Linked DNA regions of Homo sapiens: all the other regions are linked to region 1. Evidence: fine-mapped expression QTL. A gene starts in region 1. Each other region holds a variant in brackets. All regions are shown on one strand. Distances are from middle to middle. Region 1 holds the start of ARMC3 (armadillo repeat containing 3). Region 2 has its middle 85 kb from the start of ARMC3. Region 3 has its middle 29 kb from the start of ARMC3. Region 4 overlaps ARMC3 (armadillo repeat containing 3). Region 5 has its middle 15 kb from the start of PTF1A.

Evidence for each region. PIP is the estimated chance that this variant, and not a neighbour inherited with it, causes the effect.
Region 2: its variant is the best candidate, but not a certain one, in a credible set for the expression of ARMC3 in blood mononuclear cells (TOPMed, PIP 0.75).
Region 3: its variant is the best candidate, but not a certain one, in a credible set for the expression of ARMC3 in whole blood (INTERVAL, PIP 0.54).
Region 4: its variant is the best candidate, but not a certain one, in a credible set for the expression of ARMC3 in whole blood (TOPMed, PIP 0.89).
Region 5: its variant is the best candidate, but not a certain one, in a credible set for the expression of ARMC3 in pancreas (GTEx, PIP 0.55).

Annotation. Positions count from the first base shown.
Region 1 is chr10:22,925,731-22,930,838 of GRCh38, reverse strand. It overlaps ARMC3 (armadillo repeat containing 3), which reads right to left and starts at 2,786. Exons shown (of 19, transcript NM_173081.5): 1 at 2,733-2,786.
Region 2 is chr10:22,840,901-22,846,008 of GRCh38, reverse strand. No RefSeq gene overlaps it. Among named protein-coding and RNA genes, the nearest start is that of ARMC3, 85 kb to the left of the region's middle. The variant C/T (reference allele first, on the strand shown) is at 2,586.
Region 3 is chr10:22,896,781-22,901,888 of GRCh38, reverse strand. No RefSeq gene overlaps it. Among named protein-coding and RNA genes, the nearest start is that of ARMC3, 29 kb to the left of the region's middle. The variant A/G (reference allele first, on the strand shown) is at 2,254.
Region 4 is chr10:23,013,409-23,018,516 of GRCh38, reverse strand. The region is part of intron 16 of ARMC3 (armadillo repeat containing 3); the gene reads right to left. The region is part of intron 2 of LOC107984215 (a long non-coding RNA gene); the gene reads left to right. Among named protein-coding and RNA genes, the nearest start is that of MSRB2, 80 kb to the left of the region's middle. The variant T/A (reference allele first, on the strand shown) is at 2,253.
Region 5 is chr10:23,175,194-23,180,301 of GRCh38, reverse strand. No RefSeq gene overlaps it. Among named protein-coding and RNA genes, the nearest start is that of PTF1A, 15 kb to the left of the region's middle. The variant C/T (reference allele first, on the strand shown) is at 2,497.

The DNA.
Region 1 (5,108 bases):
CATCTTAAACGGTATATCGTAGGAGCAATCTTAAACGGTATATCATAGCCTTAAGGAAATTACCATAGTCTCAGTAGAAATCCTAGGAAGTAGAAAATCCTTGGGGAGAATCTACAGTGTCAGGGTTAGCTCAAATTGCATGTCAAGGGTCAAAAGCAACTCCTAGCATTAGAGACACTGACCAGAATTTATCACATACATTAAAAAGCCACGTCTTCATAGAAACTCCTAGATACTTCTGAAAGGCATTTATTCTAGGTCTCTAACTTCAGACCACACTACTTTTAAGACTTTGGAGGGCCTGGGCAAGCTTATTCACACAATAGCCAATATATTAAAATGTTAAAATGTGCCTGCATCGCCCATTAAATGTCATTTGCATCATAAAAACTTTTGAAATTTGTATTTGAAATTACTCAGCAATCAGTACATACACCTGGAAATTCTTGTAAAATGAGAAAATTGTTTTCAAATGTAATAAAAATTTATATTAATAAAACATTTAATTAACACTAATTTTTCAGTTCTCTTTTCATATTTTAGAGCCAATATAAGCATTTTTTTCAAATCTCAAACATCTTCCTTAGGTGCTTGAAAAGTGAACAGGCCCTAGACCTTGTGCCTATAATATTTCAGGCAGAGAGGCAGAAACTATTCTGGGCAAATGAGAATCTATCCTACAATTAATCTCTAGGAAAAAAAAAAGAGAGAGTTTATAGCACTCTATAACCAATTCCAAGACAGAGCAGCCTTTGATTTATAAAATAATTGCTTATGAATAATATTCAGGAAGCAATTTAATTACACCTGCATAAAGTTGTTTTAAATCATCTGATTTTCACTTAGGAACTAATTTTTCCTACTTCAGGATAGTGTTTTTGAGCAATTGCATAGTGCAGAGGTTAGAAGAGCTTACACAGACAGTATTGCAATGATAGAGTGTCTCCTAAGCTAAAGAATGAAGTTAAAAGCCTATGTGTTTTATCATGGCCCGGCGTGGTGGCTCACTCCTGTAATCCCAGCACTTTGGGAGGCTGAGGCGGGTGGATCACCTGAGGTCAGGAGCTCAAGACCAGCCTGGACAACATGGCAAAACTCTGTCTCTACTAAAAATACAAAAATTAGCCTGGAGTGGCGGTGGCATGTGCCTGCATTCCCAGCTACTGGGGAGGCTGAGGCAGGAGAATTGCTTGAGGCCGGGAGGCGGAGGTTGCAATAAGCTGAGATCACCCCATTGCACTCCAGCCTGGGTGACAGAGCGAGACTCTGTCTCCTCCCCCAAAAAAAGCCTATGTGTTTTATCACCATATTGGGTATGATAGTTAATGGAGGAGAGACTGAACAGCTGACATAGGTCGGTGGCAATGAGCTATGGAGATGATCCTTACAAGGGTAATACATTTCACTGTGGAGAATTTGGAAAACAAGGGCACAACGAATAAAATAAAAATCACCCAAAGATAAGCTCAGAGAGATCAATACTATTTCTTTTCTTTTCCTTTCCTTTCCTTTCCTTTCCTTTCTTTTTCTTTTTCTTTCTCTTTCTCTCTCTCTTTCTCTCTCTCTCTCTCCCTCTCTCTCTCTCTTCTCTTTTTTTCTTTTTCTTTTTCTTTTTTGAGACAGAGTCTCACTCTGTTGCCCAGGCTGGAGAGTGGCCTGATCTTGGCTCATTGCAACCTCCACCTCCCAGGTTTAAGAGATTCTCCTGCCTCAGCCTCCTGAGTAGCTGGGATTACAGGTACCCGCCACCACGCTCGGCTAATTTTTGTATTTTCAGTAGAGACAGGTTTCCCCACATTGACCAGGTTGGTCTCGAACTCCTGACTTCAGGCGATCCACCCGCCTCAGCCTCCCAAAGTGCTGGGGTTGTAGGCGTGAGCCACCGTACCTGGCTTTGTGTGTTTTTCTAAAGTGATTTTAACATCCTGCCTCAACTTCTATCCCCTACTTTCACCTTCCCTTCCTGGGTTCATATTCCTACTAAATTCTTATATTAACAAATAAATTCATGAAGTCTCAGTTTCCCTTCATTGCTTTAATAATCTCCAGTGGATTAGCATAACATGCCATTACAAATATTTTAAAATCCCTTAGCTATCTAGCCAGTCTCTGATTGTTGAAATTTGTTTCTAATTTTCTGGAAATATGGACAGGGCTGAAAGAACGTCCTTGGACATAAAATTTTCATCCATTATCCCCAACTATTTCTTTAGGATAAATCTCTAGCAGTAAATTAACTGGGTGAAAACTTCAGGGCATTGGATATGCAAACAACTCTGCTCTAAAAATGCATCTTCTTGACTACTGGAGCCATTTTTTTTTTCACGAGTTGATTGGTCCTTTGTATTTGTTCTTCGTGAACGTTCAGCCTATGATTTTAAATATTTTCTAATGAGTTCTGCTTTGAGAAGATTTAAAGAGGAGGAGGGCTCAAGAAATCGAGGCCACTTCTGAGTTGCTCACAGTCAAGTAACGGAATCTGACTTGATCTCACCTCAGATCCCCTCTCGGGCCTCAGTTTTGTCACCTGTTGAATGGGAGGTGGCGGGATGCTTACGAAACCCACCCCAAGCCCCGTCTAACCCTGCGGGCGCGAGGCAGAAACTAACAACGCCCAGCAAGGTGTTGCCTCACTGACCCAAGCAGTCTGCGCCCACGTGGCACCTTCTCCTTTCCCAGGTTTTCCTCAGGCCTCTGCCTTGGGCCTCCCCACCCCACGGGGTTACCTTTACCTGCCGGGAGATCCCGCCGAGTAGCTAGCTGCTCCGCAAACCCAGCAGACGAACCCCCAGTCCCTTGTTGTGCCTCGTTGCTAGGCGACGCCACGCCGCGCCGCGCCTGCGCCCTGGGAACGCTCGGGGCTGCTAGGGCGCCCATTGTCCCGCCGAGGGCAGCGGCCAGTGCGGGAGGAGCCAAGTGCGTCCGCGATTACCTGAATCCAGTGCTTTAGGGGAGAATGGAAACTGGGGGTGGAAGCTGTAAATCAAGAGGCAGTTCAGCCTCAGTTTCTGGCCCAAGGACTGGCTGTGGGTTCAAATACGCAAATACTATTGCATTCTTCCAAATAGAGGCGTCAGCCGGAATCTCTATGCAGATGAAACCCACATCAGCCACCTCCTGCCCAGGCTCCGTTAAGCTGCAGACCTGCACTGCCACATCTCTTTGCACTAGGATGTCCAATCCGTTTCCACAGAACTTCTCATGGCCCTTCAAAGCCCCGTTCTCTTCCTCTTTCTTTCCTCTTCCTGCCATTCTTCCAATTGCCTAGACTCAGAAGGAGCTTCAATTTCCCTTCTTCCTCCCATGCCCCCCAACCACAGTCATCACTTCAGCCACTTCTTGGCGGCTTACATTTTGTTTCCTGCTTGTTCCCTTTCTCATATCCTTATTGTCACTTCAATCCAGCTCGTCATTTTTTGGCCTTCTGGCTGAGAAATTCAGTTGCTCTCTGCTTACAGTTCTTTCTACGTATCACAGGCAAATCGGCCATCCAGAAATCATCGTTCCAGTCTTGTCACTTCCCTACTCAAATGTCAGCGGCTTCCTAAGATAAATTTTCAACACATTGGCCTGGAATTTAAGACCGTCTGCTCCATCTCTACTCCATCTGTGCAACCACATTTTCAACCGATCTCCACCATCCAAGCTCCAGCCAAACTTACTGTTCCCGAAATTTTCCACACTTTTCTCTAGATTTTCTTGCTTATCTGTTCATCACTTCATTTTTCAACAAATATTTATAAAGTAGCTTCTATTTCCCAGGTCATGTGCAATACCTGAAATATTCTCTCATTTCCACTTAATTAAGCCCAGCTCAAATGCCATCTTCATAAAATATTTTTTGATTGCCTTTAGCAAAAAGTCTCTCCCTCTCCTCTTAGACTTTGCAAATTCCGTCTCCTACCGGCCCCTGTTGGTCTCCCAGTCCTAAGAATGATAGATGCTTCTTATAATTGCTACTTTTATATATCTTATGTTCTCTTCTCACCATTTAAATTGCCTGATAAACAGCTTTATAACAATTATTTGTATTCAGTTTTCCATGGTCAAATATCCGGTGTGACTTCTGTATAGAAAAGATCTTAAGTAATGGTCATGAAAGTAGGAAAAGGATTAAGACCAAGTAGCATCAAGGAAACTAAGGAGGGAGTTTCAAGAATATAAGCGTCATCAAGTGTTATATGATTGGACCTTGAATAATATACACCTGTATTTTCAGCCTCTCCCTGTCTTCCACGTTTTTTCCTGTTGGTATATAATTATGTTGAAGCCCCTCCCATGCCTCATCTAAAAAGCAAAAACAAATAAAATCCCTTTGATGTTGTTGTTCCTTCTAACTATTATCCTATTGTTTTCTTTCTCTTCTTGGTCATGACTTTTCAAAAAAAGTAGCCAGCATTAGATACTTACATATTTTTAACTTCCTATTCACTCTTCAGACTATAGTGACCTGTTTTCATCCCAGCACTAAAACTATCCATATCCATTGGATGCTTCTTAGCCCTCATCTTGCTTGACATTGCTGCTGTATATAATACTCAATGACACCTCATTCTTGAAACTCTTTTCTTGGTTTCCTTGGTACTACTTGCTCTTGATCTTCCTCCTACTTTCTTTTATGACCATCATTTAAGATCTTTTCTATACAACAGGGTCTATCTATGTTGCCCAGGCTTGTCTTGAATTCCTGGCCTCAAGGAATCCTCCTGACTCAGCCTCCTGAGTAGCTGGGATTTTATAGGGATATATGCCCTATTGTGGTTTTTTTACAGAATCTTAAATGTTGAAATTTCCCAGGGATCTGTCCCTTGTTCTCTTTTCACACTATATGCTTTTCTAGGTGATCTTATTTATATTTGTGACTTCAACTATTGCACATATGTAGCTCCTCATCAGACTCCGGTACTGAACTCTAGACCCATATATCCTACTTGCTACACAGTTCCACCTGGATACCCACAGGCACTTCAGTCATCAACACTACCCACCTAAACTCATCATTTTCCCAGTATAGACATGTTTTTCCATTTATCTAGGGGTACCAACAGGTGTTCTACCCAAACAGACCACCAAGTCTGACAGGCATCCTAGACTTATTCTCCTTTTCA
Region 2 (5,108 bases), 85 kb after region 1:
GGGAAAAAATCAGTGCAAAATGCAACTTTTCACAGTCAGATTTTTAAAATATGGGCTTTGCAGTATCAATGCAAGTTTGCGAATGTTGGCTTATGGGCTAACAGCAAAGTAGGTGTGATTCTCCTCAGCTCTGGGGCTTTCATTTTTTGTTCATTCATGCATGCATGCGTTAATTCATTCATTTATTCATTCATATCAAGATAGTGGAGAAAATTCATATTTAAGTCTTATGACTTGATTCTCCCTCACACCTCTCACACAAAGCAAAGGAGTGCAGCTCTTTGTATTGGGTTGAGGTGGGAGAGATTGTTCTAAATCGCAACAATAGAGACAGAGATAACTCTATACTCTATATAGATGTTGGAATGGTTATAAAATGCAACATTAATGACAAACATCATTCTTAAAGACAAGGAAAATAATGCTTCTACACAACCACATGGTGTTGTTAACTATGTCAGTCTAAAATGCCAGATTATATTAACCCAAACTGGGAAGTAAAGGAATAAAACCCTGTTACATTTTTCATTTGACCCAAGAGCAAGTCAATGATCCTTTACGTTAAAATATAATGTAATTATTGACAATAAAATGAGAGAAAAGAAGTCTGGGTATTTTTGACTCTACTAACACTTCTACTTTAAGTGTTAATGGAAACATAATAAGCTCAGATCCCATCTTCAGAAGGGAGGCATTTATTCCTCCAGCTGCTGGGAGTGCTGCCTGCTGAAGGCTCACAGCTGAGTCCCTCCCCAGGACTTGTCTGCAATTGGAGGAGCTTTCTTGCTCCTAAAACATGATCCCTCTCCAAGCACAGCCCACATCCATGCCTGGCCAATGCAGGAATATAAATATTATATACCTAGCTGCCCCTCGACCCCCTCCACCCCCACACCTCAGTTTGGAACATTCTGGAAGGGCCATCTCAATCTCAGAGCTCCATATAAGTTTAGCTGAGGCAACTTCTCTCTCAGCTCAATCCTACATCCCTCACCTCCTTATAAATGCTGCCGCTGGAGTACACTTTCCAGCAAACCTCCACGTGCAGATCTCCGGTTGTTTCTTGGGGATCCTGACCTATGACAATATGTGACTTCCAAATCACTGGAGGGTGTAAAGAGCAAAGTCAACATAGTCATTATAACTAAAGTAAAAAATAAAAAATAAAATTCTAAGAGCATGAAGAGTATTTTTTAACCGAAAGCATGACACGAGATAACATACATGTATGTGTTCAAATCTCCTCTGTGAGAAGACAAAGACACTCCAATGGATCAAAACAACAAAATCCAACTTTGTGCTCTTTTGTCAGTGTTATTTCTTTCATAGATGTCAGCTGAGGTCATCTTGACCTTTTAAAATTAAAATAAAATTGGCCTGAGCCTTTAGTTCTATGTCCTTAGGGAAGCACAGCGCCCTTTTCTGATATTTCTGCAAATTCCTGGGCACTTAACACTTCACTGTCACTTCTGCTCACCTCTAGACATTCGATCTCATGCATGACTCCCGTATAACTCAAACCCTTTCCTTGATTCTCCCTCAAACCTCTCACACAAAGCAAAGGAGTGCAGCTCATTATGTTGGGTTGAGGTAGGAGAGAGTGTTTTAAATCGCAACAATACAAACACCTTCAAATTGGACTTGATATTCATTTTCTGAAAGTTCCTTGACCAATGAAAGCAGTTCATCATGCAAGTTTCCTGAACAAAGATAATTTCCTCTCTAAACAGAACTCTGAGGGCAGCCAATAAAATATTTTTAATCCTATTTTTATTAGAAAAAATGTGGAAGCTACTGAGAAGTCCAACTATAGGGGAAGAGTTACTTAAACTATGGTAGCCCCAGATGGTGGGAAACTGGAGACCCAATTTTAAAGTTCATTCTCAAAGAATATTTAATGGCTTGGTAAAATGTTCTTGGTATTGAATTGACTATTTAAAAAAACATAATTGTATAAATTTTATGATATAAAATATAATTTCATGTATAGTAATATGAAAATTGAAAGGAAATGCACTAAATCATTAACTGTAGTTTCCAAATAGTGTAGTTTCTAGATAGTGAGATAGTTTCTAGATAGTGAAAATAAAATTAAAATAATTAACTGTTAATTACCGTTAATAATGGTAAATAATTTTATTTTCTATACTTTTCTGACTTTTTTTTTTTTTTTTTTTTCCTGAGGCAGTGTCTTGCTCTGTCACCCAGGCTGGAGTGTGGTGGTGCAATCTTGGCTCTCTGAAACCTCAGCCTCCTGGGTTCAAGCAATTCTTCTGCCTCAGCCTTCCGAGTAGCTGGGATTACAGGTATGTGCCACCACGAGTAGCTAGGATTACAAGTATGCACCACCACACCTGGCTAATAATCTGTAAAAAAAAATGAATACATACTTCTTTTGGGATCAGGGCAAATAAGCAATGCTATTTTAAAATATTTATTGGAGATTTACTCGGGATTAGAAATAATTATTTGGAGGGGAGGAAAAACGTAATCATTTACATTATTCCATCTTCAAACCTGCTCATTTTATGTCATGATGGGAAATCCGGGCCTTCTGAAAAGGGTGGCAATATTTCCTGTTGCTT[C/T]GCTGAGTATTTGTTGAAAGTGAGAAAAAGAAAGAGAGTGGAAAGTAATAAAAATTAGTTGATTTGGCTGGGCACGGTGGCTCACGCCTAATAATCCCAGCATTTTGGGAGGCCAAAGCAGGCGGATCACGAGGTCAGGAGTTTGAGACCAGCCTGGCCAACGTGGTGAAACCCCCTCTCTACTAAAAATACAAAAAATTAGCTGGACGTCAGGCGCACACCTGTAATCCCAGCTACTCGAGAGCCTGAGGCAGAAGAATTGCTTGAACCCAGGGGGCGGAGGTTGCAGTGAGCTGAGATCACGCCACTGCACTCCAGCCTGGGTGACAGAGTGAGACTCCATCTCAAAAAAAGAAAAATGAGTTGATTGATTCTGTGCTTGCAAATTCACAGGTGGCACAGACTTTGTATTAAGTATAATTATTTTGTATTTGTCATATAATTTTATAAAGTAATATTTCTATTACATATGCAGTTATCTAATTCATTTTTAAATAAATTCACTAATTTTAATGTCACAAAAGTAATGTACTCTTTCTTAAACTAAAAAATATGAATTTTTTAAAAATATTAGGTAATATTTAAATGATAAAAATAGGTATAATAACAGGGCTGCAGTGGTCTCCTCTATAAATTGGTCACTGTTGTGACTATACCATTGATAATTTTCAGTGTAAGATCAGGAAAGTACAGTGCTCTCTCTTTACCGACAGGACTTCCCCTCCACACCACACCCCACCATTAAAATGGGTTCCCTGTGACATAATCACACAACTGTCCTAAGAACACGAAGGGTGCTAACTATATCCAATGACAAAGGAACTGTTTTAAATTAATAAGCCAATGTTCACTAAGAAAGTGGATGAGGAGTTAAAACCGCTATTATTGAGATGCCTTTTGTAAAATCTGAGAAAAAGGAAAGAGGAAAAGCATTTCTGCCAAAAGGATTCAGATTCTCCTTTTATTTACTCATCAAAATCCGTTAGGAAGGAAATTTCTACTAGAGGATTTCTTGTTCTTGGATTTTCTTCGTCTCAAACCAGCAACACCCTCTTTGTCAAGGCAGAGGTTGATTGGTTGGATTCAAAGGGGATTATGTTTCCTAACATGGGGTCCAGGGCTCCTTTGCTCAGAATCACCAACGACCTTGTTAAAATGCAGATCCCGAGCCTTCCTCCAAAATTCTTATTCAGCAGATCCAAAGTGGAGCCTGGGAATCCATTATTTTACAGGTTTCCCAGTGATTCCTATACACATGAAAGTTTGAGACCCACTGGGCCCAGCAATTCTCTATGGTAGTTTTAACAAACTCTCGGCAATGTTGAAGGATGAGAGCCTGGTAAGTTTCTAAGGCCCATGGCTCACTGGACCTACAGAAGGTTTTCAATCCCTTTAACAAAATGTCTTGCCATATGAACTACAGTCCTTAGGAAACTGGTGAAAAAGATGGAGATCTCAAGAAATAATCTAATCTCTCCCTTCCCAGCCAGACTTAGTTGAAATTTAGTGCCATCAGAGGCGGTTTTTGTTTTATCAGTTCAGACTCACTAATAATGATGATGCTAAATAGTCTCAAAACACATGGTTTAATGCATATTTTGAAATATCATTTGAGGTGACTACATACTCCAACATCAGAATTATCCATACTTGAAACACATAATGTATTATGTGTGCATATGTGTGTGGGTACTTCATTCCCCATGCCAATTGTAAGCTGTAGACCATAGTTTTAAAAATAACTTTTATTAGGCGGGCACGGTGGCTCATGCCTGTAGTCCCAGCACTTTGGGAGGCTGAGGTGGGTGGATGGCTTGAGCCCAGGTGTTCAAGACCAGCCCAGGCAACATGGTGAAACCTGTGTCTGCCAAAAACAAAACAAAACAAAAAAAACTAGCTGGGCATGGTGGTGTGCACCTAGTGCACCTATAGTCTCATCTACTCAGGAGGATCATCTGAGCCCGGGGTGGTCAAAGCTGCAGTGAGCCATGATTGCACCACTGCACTCCAGCCTGGGTGACAGAGTGAGACCTTGTCTCAAAAAAAAACTACTTTTATTATTTTTATGACTATAAACATAACAGAGTTGTACAAAATTCAAACATTGCAGAAATACTTAAAGTAGAAAGTGAAAATCTACCATAGCCCCCATTGCAAACAATCAATATATATGCTAATGGATATACATGTGTGTGTGCATCCAACATTTTTCTATGCATATGGAACATTTTTAATGTACATGGAATCATATAAAATACAATGCTATACCATTTAGCAATGCATGTTGGACTTGCTTCCAAGGTAGTACCTCCATCATGATAATAGCTGGGTGGCATTCCACTGAATGGCTATATGATCACATTAGGTTGTAACACTTCTGTTTATCATCAACAATGTGGCACTTTATCATGAGCAATTCTTGCTCCCACTTAGTCTTGAGATCTCTGCTCATTCGTCTTTTCCTCAAGATTTCTTCCCTGACCCCCTAACTTAGGTTTACTTCCCTACTACGTGTTCTCATAG
Region 3 (5,108 bases), 29 kb after region 1:
TCACATTTTAGCCAGGTTGACAACGGGTATATCTCATTTCAAGTAGAGGAAATAATATTGACAAAATACATTTTGTAGACGGCAAGAAAGTTATCATGACATGAGCTGATGGAGCCCATAAGAAGGGGCAGGAGATGTGGCTGGGAAGATAGCATGGTACCTTAGCCCAAGGGGTTTGTGGAAGCATTTTGAGTTTTATGAGACTCATACTTCAGACTTTGAGAAACTACTTTATAAAATAAGCAAACAACTGAGGTTCATAAAATTAGACCAGTTTGCACCAAAGAAATCCTAGACGCAAAGACAGATGTATGTATCACCAGTACAACAAGGATCCCTTCTCCTTGCACTAAACATGGCCCTTTTGAGGGAAGGAGCATTAAGAGAAAGTTGGACAGTTGTTCTCTCTGTTGGTACAAAAGCTCAGACAAAGAGCAGCCAAGTGCTAGGAACAGAAGCAACCCCTTTCTAAGTACTGCCATGTGTTTTTCTCCCCAGATTAAACACACTGAACTGGGATGGAAAAAAAAGCAACCTTTGAAAAAATAAAAAATGAAAATATTACTCGGGTGTTCTAGTAAACAGCCTAAAGTAGCACAGCACCAGAAAACTGTTGGTTGGGATTTTGGGGGCTAAGATCTCTTTATATGGCCAATTTGGGCGAATATTATCCCACAAAATAAAAGAACCTTAATCTCAGGTCTTTTTGGGTTTATAAAATCTGCCAACAAAATCCTCACTTGGGTGTTGATGGGTTTTCCTCTGCCCGACTGTGGCCTGGCTCTGAAAGAAGAAAAAGAGGCAAATGTTAAGCAAGACCATTTGAACTCTCTCTCTCCCCAGGGATAGGCCACAGCTGGCTTCCTCTGACTCCACTAAGAATTCATATTCTTCTGAAGACCAATGACAGCCTTTTCCTCCTATTACTATGACTTAGGCCATTTGTCTTACAAAATAATACCCTTGCAAAGGTTTGGGTGTTTGTCCCCTCTAAACCTCATATTGAAATTTGATCTCTAACATTGGGGTTGGGGCTAATGGGGGTCATTTGGATCATGGGGGCAGATCCTTCATGAATTGATTAATGCTTTCTTTCAGAGGTGAATGAATTCTCACTCTATTAGTTCTTATGAGGGCTGGTTGTTAAAAAGCTGGAACATCCCCCCTTCTCATGTGACCTCTGCACATGCAGCTCCCCTTCACCTTCTTTCATGAATAGAAGCAGCCTGAAGCCCTCACCAGATGTAGATGCCCAATATTGAACTTTGCAGTCATTAGAACCATGAACCAAATAAACCTTTTATTTAAATAAATTACCCAGTCTCTGATATTTCTTTATAGCAACACAAAACAGACTAAGACAGCCTCTTACTATGCTAAATGAATATTTGCCTCCTACCTAGGCCTGTTTTCATTAAAATGTGCTCTGAATTTAGTGGAAAATACTTCTTTGTGAGCCAAAAAGTGGGGAAATGACCTTTCTCAATTTGTTTAACTTTGATTTCCAAGTTCCTTCCATGATGATGGGGTGAAAAAGGAAGGGACATGTCACACATTAGATTCTCCAGGAAGTAGTTGTGGTGATAGAGTTAGGGGTGTAAACCTTTAATTATGAAGTAAAAGTTACAAAAGGCAAAAGGGAGAAAGCAGGACTGGGCAGCAGGAGCCATCAGACCACAGTACAGACAGGGCAGGGTCTTTGCCACCAAAAGACAAAACTCTGAAGCAAAGACTGCTCTTCTAAAGAGTCCTGCACTGGGGACCATACCGAGAATGGTGTGACATTGTCTTAAAAAGCTGAGGCAGATCTCCCAGAGCCTCAGTGAACTTTGTGTGCATGAGAAATAAATCTTTGTTGTCTTCAGTTACTGAGACTTGGGAATCTTGGATATGAGGGTTCATGACTTTAATCCATTTAAGGAAATTTTTGGCCATATTTCCTCAAATATTTTTCTGCTCTGCCTCCTTGACTAGCTTGTCCTGACTGATACAAAGTACCTAGATAAAAATCTATTAACAGGTCCTTCTAATCCCTCCTAGTAGCTGCTGCTTTACTATGTACCTCCACCATTGTATACACAAAACTGTATATTTGTTTTCTAGGGCTACTGTGACAAAGTAGCATAAACTGGATGGCTTAAAACAAGAGAAACTTATTCTTTCATAGTTCTGGAAGCTAGAAATCTGAAATCAAGGTGTAGCCACGTCCTTGTTCTCCTCAAGGCTCTCCAAGTCCTTCCTTCGGCTCTTTCT[A/G]GCTTTTTGTGGTTTCTGGCAATCTCTGGTATTCCTTGGCATGTAGATGCATCACTCTAATATCTGCCTTTGTCTTCATGTGATCTTCTCCCTTGTGTGTCTCTGTGCTTCTGTCTCCACATGGCATTCTCCTCTCTCCACATGGTATTATCCTCTCTGCATCTGTGTTCAAATTTCCCCCCATTTTATTAGGACACTAGTCATCAGCTTAGGGCCTACCCTAATCCAGTATGACTTCATGTTAACTTGATTACCTCTGCAAAGACCCTATTTCAGAAAAAAAAAAAAAAATCACATTCACAAGTACCAGAGGTTAGGACTTCAACATATCTTTTTGGGGGATGTGATTCAACCCAAAACAAACTGTATTGTTTTTATTTGCTTATATGCAGATTTTCCTTAATAAACTGATAATGTCTTGAGAGCAGGAAGCTCTTTACCCTTACTCTCTTCATTTCTAGCATAGCATCTAAATTATATTTAGGTATTCAGTAAATGTGTGTAGAAGGTGACAACTAAATTAGAGCACTGCTTGCATTGATAAAGATCAATTTGAAAAAAGAACATAGGTAAAATGGTAGAATACTAAATATTTCCATTTTTGGCAGCAAATCCAAGTCATTATATAGAGTCCCACTTATACACATTTTGGTTGTAGACAGGAGAAAAATCCAACTGATACTGTCTTAAAGAATTTTATTGGATCATATATCTAAAAAGCCCACGGTATAGGTCATTTTTATGTGATTCTGTGGCTCAATGATGAAACCAAGAGAAAATATATATTTCTTCTTTGAGCCATGACAGAGAACCTGATACAGAACTAGTCATAAACAACTGGAAAATTGGGCAAATTATCTGCAACAAACAACAGTTTTTATTTGGTTGGGGAGGTTATTTTTTTATTTCAATGAGTTTTTGGGGAACAGGTGGTGTTTGGTTACATGAATAAGTTCTTTAGTAGTGATTTCCGGGATTTTGGTGCACCCATCACCCAAGCACTGTACACTGTACCCAGTGTGTAGTGTTTTATCCCTCACCCCACCATCCCACTCTTTCCCGAGTCCCCAAAGTTCATTATATCATTCTTACACCTTTGCATCCTCATAGCTTACCTCCCACTTATGAGTGAGAGCATACAATGTTTGGTTTTCCATTCCTGAGTTACTTCACTTAGAATAATGGTCTCTAATTCCACCTAGGTTGCTGCAAATGCCATTATTTCATTCCTTTTTATGACTGAGTAGTATTCCATAGTGTGTATATATATATATATATATATATATATATATATATATATATATATATATACCACATTTTCTTTACCCACTCATTGATTGATGGGTATTTGGGCTGGTTCCATATTTTCACAATTATTAATTGTGGTGCTATAAACATGCATGTGTACGTATTCATATATTTTACACATAATGACTTCTTTTCCTCTGGGTAGATACCCAGAATTGGGATTCCTGGATCAAATGGTAGTTCTACTTTTAGCTCTTTAAGGTATCTCCACACTGTTTTCCATAGTGGTTGTGCTAGTTTACATGCCCATCAACAGTGTTAAAGTGTTCTCTTTTCACTGCATTCATGCCAACATCTATTTTTTTTATTATTATTATTATGGCCATTCTTGCAGGAGTAAGATGATATCTCATTGTGGTTTTGATTTGCATATCCCTGATAATTAGTGATGTTGAACATTTTTTCATATGTTTGTTGGCCATTTGTATAGCTTCTTTTGCGAATTGTCTATTCATGTCCTTAGCCCACTTTTTGATGGGATTTGAAACAACAGTTTTTAGATATTGCAGAACAAATATGGTGAAACTGATGATCATCGTTTTCACCTAGAGGCACTTTACAGATTAAAACTATTACGCTCAGCAAGCAGTACCCCAAAATACCATTTTGACATGCTGGCTGAATGAAGGAAGTAGCCTCGAGGTCTCTCTCTGACCTTTCCCTGCTTGCCTGTTTATCTGATCTGCTTACTTTCCCTAAGCACCAAGAGTGACTATCTTTGGAATTTCCATCTGATTAAGAAAGTTTCTTTCTAAAAAGAATGCGGTTGTCTTAAGACCTCCTTCCTAGGAATCACATCAAACAACCAGGAAGGATTAACTACCAGAGAAGATACTGGGAGTTACCACTCCTTAACAAACTTTTCATCTATTTTCCTGAGGGCAGGTCTGAGAGATTACCTGGGAGGCTTTATCTGCATACTAAGACGATCTTTGTTCACAGTGAAGTTCTGTTCCTCACCTTCCCACCACTTCCCCCCAGAGCTCAGAAGAACTTTGTTTCAGGCCCTGTTCTTTGGGCTCATTCATTTCCCCTGAGAAGCATTCACTTCTACATCCCTTTCTCCTCTACCACTGTGAAGAAGGGTGCATAACATCTGGTCCTCACTGGGTTATAGGGTAATCATTCTCCTGCAATTCCCCCATTCAGTGCACACTAAATAAATTTGCGTTCCTCTTTCTCCTATTAATCTGTCTATTGTCAGCTCATTTTTCAGTGAGAGGGAACCAAGTGGACCACAATAGTTTCATGAGCTGAGGAGAGAGGGATTGGAATTTGGGAATGTCGAGGTAAATGGAGTTTGCAGGGCAGAAAATTGGGGAAGAGGGAACTGTGGAGAGCTCCAGAAACCTGCAAATCCACACAAAGTTCTATTGAGCTTTTGGCTGACTACTAAGCTGTCCATATGCAGTGCAAAACTCCATGAGGCCTTGCAACGGAGCTGTAAGCTAAAAAAAATTCCCAGAGCATAGATGGGGGTGAGAGATGTTTTGATTTTTTAACTAGCTAGAATGGAGTGAATATATTGAAAACATGGAATATCTGGA
Region 4 (5,108 bases), 88 kb before region 1:
AATTACTAAGGTGCAAGTCTAATAAATGATACCATTATAGATGCCTTTTTGGTTTTGAAGCACACAGGCTCTCAGCTGAGCCACAGTCACGCAGAGACAGATCAAGAGGCACCATCTATGGCCAAACATGACTTTGGGCAGAAGGTCTAAAAATGAACGAAATGAGAACCTAAGTTTCCAGGACTCCAGACAGTTTGGTTACTCCAGTGTGGGCTGGGAGGCTGTTCTACAACCCCAGCTGTGACCACAGACCTGCTTCCCTGCCCAAGGACTTTAGCTCTTTTGCATGATGAGAGAAGTCTCCAGAACAGGCCTGGGTGGGACTTTGAGTAGGTGGAGTTCCAAGGAGCACAATGCTGTTTCTAATACCTGACTTGCAGTCAACACTGCTGCTAGTTCCTTTCCATTTTACCAGTAGAATTTTGTCAATTAACCAGTGATATGCAAATAAATGCTTCTGTTTATTATTAAAAAGAATTGTTGCCTTATCTAAATATCTACCACACTGCTCTCCGTGACATTAGCCTGCTTTCTGAGGGCAGATTTTCTTACACACCTTGTTCATTATAATAGGATCTGACAATATTAAGATTAAACAGTAGCTTTGATTGCAGCTTTTATTTTGTTACCTTCTTGAGAACAAGGAACTTAAAACAACAAATGTGTCAGAGGGTCAAGAAATCAAGAAAATGGGGCTAGGCCAGACCAGGCAGGTGAATTACCTGTTTTGTTTTGTTTTGTTTTGTTTTTTGAGACGAAGTCTCGCTCTGTTGCCCAGGCTGGAATGCAGTAGTGCGATCTTGGCTCACTGCAACCTCTGTCTCCCAGCCTCAAGCTGATTCTCCTGCTTCAGCCTCCCAGGTAGCTGGGATTACCAGCATTCCCCACCATACCCAGCTAATTTTTGTATTTTTAGTAGAGACAGGGTTTTAGCATGTTGGTCAGACTGGTCTCAAACTCCTGACCTCAAGTGATCCGCCCATCTCGGCCTCCCAAAGTGTTGGGATTACAGGTGTGAGCCACCATGCCCGGTCAATCACTTGTTATATACTCATGCATATTGAGCATCTGTTACACTAGCAGTAAATTAGGGGGTTTGGGAATTATTTAACTTTAAGTATTACTTGAAGCACAAGGTGGGAGGGAAGAATTGACTGAGGTCCAGATGAATTTTCTTTTTATTTTGAAGAAAAGAATAGAAAAATAATCCTGTCAACTGCTATTTGAGAATTACAAAGCTCTATATTCGTTTTAACAAGTACAAAAAGTTTTATACTTTCTAATTAAATATTATATTTGCTGCAGCTAAGTAAAAGAGAGAGGTTAATCATGTATCATTGAATGCACCCACCATGCATTCTAATAAAATCTCTAAGCAAAAGTTAGTATTTCCCAGAGAGATCATCTTAACCCCTTTCTCTTATTTGTAAAAAAAAAAATAATAAATTGGACATTGTCACATACATAGTTAAGATTTTAGTAAATTAGAAACCAATACTAGGAAGGTCAATTAGAAGTGCAGGAAGCACAGATAGGTTCACCTGTTTTCTAAAATTGCAAGGTGGTGGTGTAAGATTGGAGAGCTCAGTTCCAACAGTCAGTCCAATACTTCGTCACTGAATAGAGTGACTATTCAGAGTTACCTACAAAACAGAGGCAGGAGTGTGTCTCACAGAGCGTGCTGCCTGATGTAAGAACAAGGAGTCATTTGGCATGAAGGAGAAAATATCTGATACACCTCCAGGAAATGCAATCTTATGAATGATTAAAAAGAGAGAATTTCCGGGAACTCCTGAACTGTAGTTTCTTATTGCTATAAATAGAAGCATTTCTTTTGGACTTCTTTCCCATGAAGTCTGCCAGGTTATATTAATAAGGGCTTCAGTACTTAAATAAATTTCATTTCATGCATATGGAAATAAACACTTGGAAATTATAAAATTAACTCCGGTAAAATTAATTCTCAGAGCATCAGTTTTTGGTTAAAGACAGCAGAACTTTTACCTCTCCTGCAGAAACTTTAGCAAAACTACCTCAGGAAACAGGGATTTACTGTGGGATCCAAAGCTCTAAGGTTATTTTTCTACATTCATAGGTGGATGAAAAGGAGAGCAGGTAAACATATAGAATATTTGGCTGGCTCTAAATCGCTTATTGACATTTTCAAAGTTTAATCCCTTGCTCCTTTTTGATACCATCAACTATTGAAATACATAATTTTAGGACAAGGCTGGTGGGAGAAATACAGGTCA[T/A]GAACCCAGCCCTCTTGGGGTTTCAATTTAAGCAAGAAGATTTTGTTATGTGGAAAATAATCACAATACCAGGCAGCATTCAATAAATTCCACATGAGTGATAAAGATGTGAAAGTCTCCAGGAGTTCAATGTTGAAAGAAATGTATTCAAATTGGGTGTCCTATTCCACCCAATTTATTCCAAAAGGATGGGAACAAGGCGTTGTTCAAAGTAGAGATAGGATTTGTTCTGGGTAGTGTCTGATTGTGTGAGTGTGTGTGAGTGTGTGTATTTCTTTGTTGTCTGTCTTCTCACTAGGATGTAAGTTCTATGAAGGCAAAGGTTTTTGTTTACTGCTGTATCTCCAGCACTGGAACAATTCCAGGCACATAGAAGGCGCTCAATAAGTATTTGTTGAATGAATGAATTGTAGAAAAGAAGGTAAGAAGGTGTTTACATGTGACTAAGAGACAATATCTGTTTCTGAAAGACTTTAGTAGTCAAGATTTGGGGGAGGAAGCAACAACAGTTTAAGTTATGGGTAAAAAGAGGGTAGTGGGAAATTATTTTAAAAACAAAAATGTTTTAGGAAATCATTATCCTGTAGATCAAGATTGTGTGAGTGACAGAAGTATTAAATAAAGCATTTGCTGTAAATATCTAAAAGGCTCTAGACATGATCAGCATGGAAAGAGGATATGAAAAAGGAGACAGAAAAACAACTAACTTTTAAATGTGTGTAATAAACTCATGTTCAGTCAAGTGAACGTTCATGAAAACTGGTCTGAATACAAAAGAACAGTGTAGACAGAACTTATCACACATTTCACAAACAGATCTAGTGAATGCTATTTTTAAATGTTTACATTCAAATGTTCTCTATAAGGAAAAGCTTTAGAAGAAATGTTAGATATGTTGGTTTCGGTGAAGACTAAGGAAGGAGGAGAGTGGATAACCAGGGAACGAATTAATCACGTCTCCTATGAGTGTTTTGCCATTAAGGGGAGTACAACTAAAGCCTTCGAAACCAAAAGTAATATGGTGCCTGGTCACCCAGGAGACAGAGTTTCAAATTTACATGCTGCATGGTAATGAGATTCATCAGGAAAAAGAAATCCGTACTTCCCCTTTCTCTTCTCCATATTAGAACACTTCACATGTAATTGATCTTACTTCTTTCCCATCTCTTCTCTCCTCTCCCTTTCAAAAATGTAGCACTCCATGGTTCTCGATGTCTCATTATTCTGTCAGTATCTCTCACTTTTTTAATTTATTTTTTTCCTTTATGATCTTCTTTTAAATTTTTTTTTAACTTTTATTTTAAGTTCAGGGGTATATGTGCAGGTTTGTTACATAGGCAATTTGTGTCATGGGGTTTTTTTTTTTTTTTTTTTTGTACAGATTATCTCATCACTCAGGTATTGAGCCTAGTACCCATTCATTATTTTTCCTAATCCTCTCCCTCCTCCACCCTCCACCCTCCAGTAGGCCCCAGTGTGTGTTGTTGTTCCCCTCTATGGGTCCATGTGCTCTCATCATTTAGCTCCCACTTATAAGTGAGAACATACAGTATTTGGTTTTCTGTTCCTACATCAGTTTGCTAAGGATAATGACTTCCAGCTCCATCCATGTCTCTGCAAAGAACATGATCTCACTCTTTTTTGTGGCTGCATAATATTCCGTGGTGTATATGTACCACATTTTCTTTATCCAGTCGATCATTGATGGGCATTTAGGTTGATCCCATGTCTTTGCTATTGTCTCACTCTTTTTAACATAAAATATTCCCAATGGCTTTTCAGACGAATGCAGTTAAAATATTTTATTCTATTTCCAGGAGTCCAAAGTTTTAATAGTCATAAGACAAGAAGGGTTGACCAAAAGACAGGCAACAGGACAACAGGGCTATGGCTAATCTACCCCTCAATGGACCAAAGGCTAAGAAGGGAAGAGAGAAGGGACGCACATTGAGCCCCTAAGTGTGCTAGGTGATGGTCAGGCACTTTCCTGACACCATCTCTCCTCTTACAGCAGCTCTTTGAGGCAGGGATCATCATTTTCATTTACAATTCAGAAGACCAAGGCCCAGTTGTGTCTGAATCCAAAGTCTCTGTGTTCTCCTCATGCCAACAATCCTCTTAAATCCTAGGAGTGCTTCAGGGTTTATCTTGAAGTGGGGAGTGAGCTGCCAGAATGTGCAGAGGAAGAGGGAGAGTGAAGACAGTACAAAGAAGGAATAATTATTCTCATTTGTTTATATTTGTTCTCCCTGGACATACTGTAAAGGAGTCAAACATCTGTTCCTTTCAACAAACAGCATTCAATAATTAAAGTAATTTTTAATATTATTAATCAATAAATAATTTTTTACTGCCCCTGATGAGCCTGATACTATTCTAGGCTCTACGGATATAAAGATAAAAAAAAAAGCGTGGTCCCAGATCTCAAACAGCTCATTGTTCAGTAAGAAAGACAAATAAATCAACACAAATCAGTGCAGGCTATGGAAGAGATAGAATCCATTCACAAAGGAGTTTCAGTTTCATGGGATGACTAAGGGCTGTGTTCTGGAGATCTAATGTACAGCATGGAGACATTATATTATATTTAATAACACTGTATTGTACACATGACATTTGCTAAGAGAGTAGATCTTCAATGTTCTCACCATGAAACTACAAAAAATGAAAGAGAACTCTGAGGTGACAGAAGTGTTAATTAACTTAATCGTGGTAAACATTTCACAGTGTACACAGATATCAAAACATCATGTTTAAATGTACATAATAATTCATTTGTCAATTAAGCCTCGATAAAGTGAGAAAAAACTATAGCTAAATAATTAAAAACCCAAATTCACAAAAAAATGGGCACAA
Region 5 (5,108 bases), 250 kb before region 1:
ACAGAGTCTCACTCTGTCACCCAGGCTGGAGTGCAGTGGCGCAATCATGACTCACTGCCTCTTCCACCTCCTGGGCTCAAGCCATCCTCCCACCTCAGCCTCCCAAGTAGCTGGGACTACAGGCATGTGTCACCACACCAGACTAATTTTTGTAGAGATGGGGTTTCACCATGTTGTCCAGACTGGTCTCGAACTCCTTGTACTCCCAAAGTGCTGGCAATACAGGCATGAACCACCACATCTGACTACTTAGGTATTTTTTAAGCTGAATAATCTTGTTGTTTTTCATAATTATATATGAAGCTATAAACACAGAAATACTGAGAAAATGTCAAATCACGCTGTTTTAGTTTATTGCTTTAAGGAATGTGTTTCGAGCATCAACCATGTTCAGGTGACTGTGTTATGTATGTGGAAATACGGAGATGAATATGTGCAGTCTCTGCCCCTTAGCACGTTCTTGGTGTAGTAAAGACAGGAGTGAGTAATTATGATCCGGTTCAGTGAGGGCTATATTGAGGCATAAGTCGGTATAAGAATGAGGGGACAGAGAGAGCTTCAAAAAAGGAACAATGTTGGCCACGAGTGGTGGCTCACACTTGTAATCCCAACACTTTGGGAAGCTGAGGCAGGCAGAGAGGTCGGGAGTTCGAGACCAGCCTGGCCAACATGGTGAAACCTAATCTCTATGAAAAATACAAAAATTAGCTGGGGGTGGTGGTGTGTGCCTATAATCCCAGCTACTCGGGAGGCTGAGGCAGGGGAATTGCTTGAACCTGGAGGGAGAGGTTGCAGTTAGCTCAGATTGTGCTTCTGCACTTCAGCCTGGGCAACAGAGCAAGACTCTATCTCGGGGGGTTAAAAAAAAAAAAAAAAGGAACAATGTTGAGCTAAGCCAGTCCTGAGGAAATAATGACCACAAGAGGAGGGGCAGAAATGTGCTTCTGGGAGGTTGAACATATTTACAAAAGCCTAGAGCTGTGAATAGCCCATGGATATCCCCAGCAAATCCATGGGATGTTAGGGGCTCAGCCCCAAGCACAGCCTGCGTTCTGCACCTTCCAGTGTGCCTTTTTGCATCTACTTTCTTAGTCCTGCCTCCACAGCCCAGCCTCATCCCAGGCATGGAGTGGCCTCATGGTGAACACATGGATGCCCCACCAAGACCTATGTCTTCAAAGAATGCCCAGTGCTCCAAATTATCCTTTTTGCCCTCTTTAGAAGCCAATTACTTCAGGGCCATTGGTCTCAGCTAGAGGCCATAAAGGAAAACATCTGCTCCCCTAAGGTATGGGCAACACAGAGCAACCACATCATTCCCTCCCCAGCATTTGATTAGGGTTCTTGAAAGGTAATGCCGTAAATCACAGGAAGGGATTTTTTTGAATCTGGCATTTGAGCCTTAGTGCAGTCATTTGAAGGCATTTCGGGGGTAGACAGAGATTTCCTCGTGTCCACTGAATCTCACTTTTATTTAGCCTTTGCCAGCCCTAGAAACAGATTTCCCTGTGTGCACCTCATGGTAGAATGTCTTTCTGTATCCTTACACACTCCTGATCCTGGCCTTTTTTCTTTTTCAGAAGCTTGTTATCTACTACACCTGAGTATAAACCCATTGTAGAAATCCAAGATGGTGCTAGGAATATATGCAGAGACTCCTAAAAATGTTAAGGGATGTCCCAGATGGAACCAAAGCTGAGAATGCATCATCTGTTATATAATATTTCCCTGCTCAAATTTAAAATGATGTGAGGGAATTATGTTGTCATTGGCCTTGGAGGTCTCCAGGACTTAGAGAGTACATTTCTTCTTCAGCTGGACAAGTTTGAGCAGAGAAGAAAGGAAGGTACAGGTAGATCATTTTATAATTTCTGGATGCTTTACAAAAATAAAAATTAACCGGAAAAGCTTCCACCATACCTAGGTTGTGGGAGCCAGTGGAGCAAACCACAGATACTCTCTAGTTCGTCCAGGCAGATGATAGCTTACACTTCTCTACCCTCTTCAAGGTGAAATGTGGCCATATGACATGCTCAGTGAATGAAAGATGTGTGAAAATGACATGGTACCTCTGGGAGGAAGTTTTAAGAGCCAGTGCACAGTTTGTCTTTTGCCTCCATATTCTGTAATGATTGTGGACGTACACCTTGGGGCAGGACATCTGTCAGCTGGGGACCTGGAGTGACTCTGATGAACAAAGTTCCCCCGCAAACCTTCATAGAACGGGTAACCTGGACCAGAAATAAACTTTTGTTGTGTGAAGCTGCTGAGATTTGGGGGTTGCTACTGCAGCAAAACCTAGCCCACCTGACATACCTAGGTTGGTGCATGTAGCATTCTGCACCTAGTGTCATTGCATAGAGACTCAGTACCTTTGTGGATTTGTTTACAGTCTTTTGGTTTTAGTAGTGAAAGCCAATTTGAACTAAGTTAGACATTAAAAGGGGGATACATCATGGGATACAGAGCATCTCCTAGAATCTGATAGCAGGAATG[C/T]AGTGAGGCCTCAGGAGGCAGCAGTGCCAAGTGTTGTAGAAACTGAAGATTCTCCCCTGATAGCTATTTTCTCCTTCCTTTCATAATGGCACTCCAGGATTTTAGCTGGGCACATAGCTACCCAGAATAAAAACTACATTTCCTGCTCACCATGGCAGCTCTGTGTGGCTATGAAACTAATTTCTAAGTAATGGGTTGTGACCAGAAATGAGGCCAAGCTTTGAGACTCAGTCTTTGAAGGAGAAAGACATGTCCTATATTGTCACTTCCCCTCTTTCCACTGGTTGGGATGCTGAGGCAACAGGAGGAGTTGGAGCAGCTACTATGAACCATGAGTTGAAAGCTACACGTTGAGGATAGATGAGCAAATACACAAGAGGAACTGAAGTCCCCCACATCATTTAGAGCCCATACCAAGCCTGGAATACCTATCCAGCTTTGTTTTGTCTCTATGAGAAGTAAATAAACTTGTATCTCATATTTGTAAACTTTTTACAGTAGAGCAGCTAAACTTGTACACTAGTCAACACATCATGATCTAGAAAGATGCCTGGACATTGTCTCTGTCTTTCCTGTGCTTCTTTCTCTTTCCTTCTGCACATCTTCATCCTTTTCATTTTCTATGGATCAGCTTTCTCTGATTTTGAGTTATTTCATAGAAAACGTGGCTGCCTTAAAGAAGCACGATGTTCATGTCTGTAACACACATTTATTAAGCACCTGTTGTGTGCTGGGAAGTGTGCTTGGAATATCTCTTCTATGTACTGTTCTGTCTGTTGCTAGCATTAAACACTAGCAACAGAACAGTAGGTACAACATATCCTTTTTTCCATGGGGCATATGGAGGATTGAAAATGAGGATTAGAGGTAGACAGTAACATGAAACAGAATGATCATCATGAAATTTGAAGAAATAAAAAATTTTATTTAAAAAAGGATTTTATTAAGGATGAAGTAAAGAGGGATGGTAAGGATGGAAATGTAGATGGGATCTAGATCAAAGAAGACCTTGTAAACTGTGTTATGGAGATGGGCATCATATAGATAGTCATTTGCAGATTGGATAAACCTTATAGGGGTATAGGAAGAAACTATCAGAACTATCATCTACATTTTTTATCTTTTTTTAGAAAAATTGTGTGTCCTATGCATTCTTTATAATATATATAACTGACTCGTATAGCAGCACATCTTTATAACTTACCTATAATTAATTTGGGAATAGAAAGCCGACAAACGGTTTTACCCAGGGGGATAGCATGATCCAGTTTACCAATTACGAAGGGTGCTTGGGGCTTCGCTGTGGAGAATGGATGGAAGCAAGGCAGGACTACAGGCAGGGAGACTGAGCAGAAGGCCGTGGCAGCAGAACAGCTGGGATATTGTGAAGGACTGAACTGGGTGGTGACTGGGCAGATTGGAGAGAGATTTTGGAAAGAATTACTAGGATTTCTGAACTTATTGAATGTGGGAATTGGAAAAAGAGAGAAGGAAAAGATGATACTAAGGATTCTGCTTTTGCCATCAGGATGAATGGTGGGCCTGTTACTGCAATTTTAGGCAAACTAAGGTCTGTAAATTGGCCCTAAATTGGGGGACATGGAAATTGCTGGTAAAATGATTAAAAACAGTTTCAATGTGAGATTGGGGTGCAGACTGATGAAGACTGAATAAAGGCAATGAACTTGATTGAGACCCCTATCTGGAGGAACTTATTAAGAAGTAGAGTTGTGAATGTGATAAAAGAAAGGTCAGGGGTGACTTTTCCGTTATTTTTGCAGATGGGAAAGACTTTCACCCTGTGAGGAATCTATTTTCTCCCCTTTATTCTCCTTGCAAACAGTCCTTTTCAGACACACACCCATCTTCCTTATCCTTGGCCAACTGCCTTATTCCTGGACCAACTTCTCTATTACTTTAAGAAAATCATTTTCTTTTATCTGGTCAAAAACGAATCCTAATAATTGATGACACATATAAAAGTAATGAGGGTGGTGGCCTTGCATTAAGGGAAAGGAAATTTCCAGCTAATATTAGGCAAGACAGACAAGCTCTAAAACCTTTTGAAGTTCCCTTTAGACACACCCAACATTTCTGTCTCCCTCATCTTTTCTTCAAGTTGGCCCTGAGTATTATTAAACACCACTTGTTCTTTTTAAAATTGTCTTAATATTATAGCCGTATTTCTTGTGCTATTTTTCTTTTTCAGTATTTCCGCCGTGTGAAGACTTTTTGGGGCTTACCTAGAGAGTAAACTCCATTGACAATTTCCTCCCTAAGGAAAAAAAGCATTTTAAGGTTTTGCTTTAGAAGCCAGCTTGAGGGGGTGGGGGTGGGGGGCTAAATTTCTTGGTTTGTCAGGCCTTCGGGACACAGACGGGTACAGGAGTGACCCACTAAAGGCATAGCTGTTGGTGCAGCCCAAAGAAGCTAACGTACCTTCCGTGGTTTCTTCTGGGCAGGGAGCGACTGTGGCGTTGGGAGAGGTCAGTGAGAAGGCCACACTGCTGTTTAACCAGGAACAGCTGCTAAATGCGCCTGGGCTCAGGCCCTTCTTTGCACAGGAAGATAGACAAGGAGAGGGCAGGCCTACCTGGAAAGTTCAAGTTAAA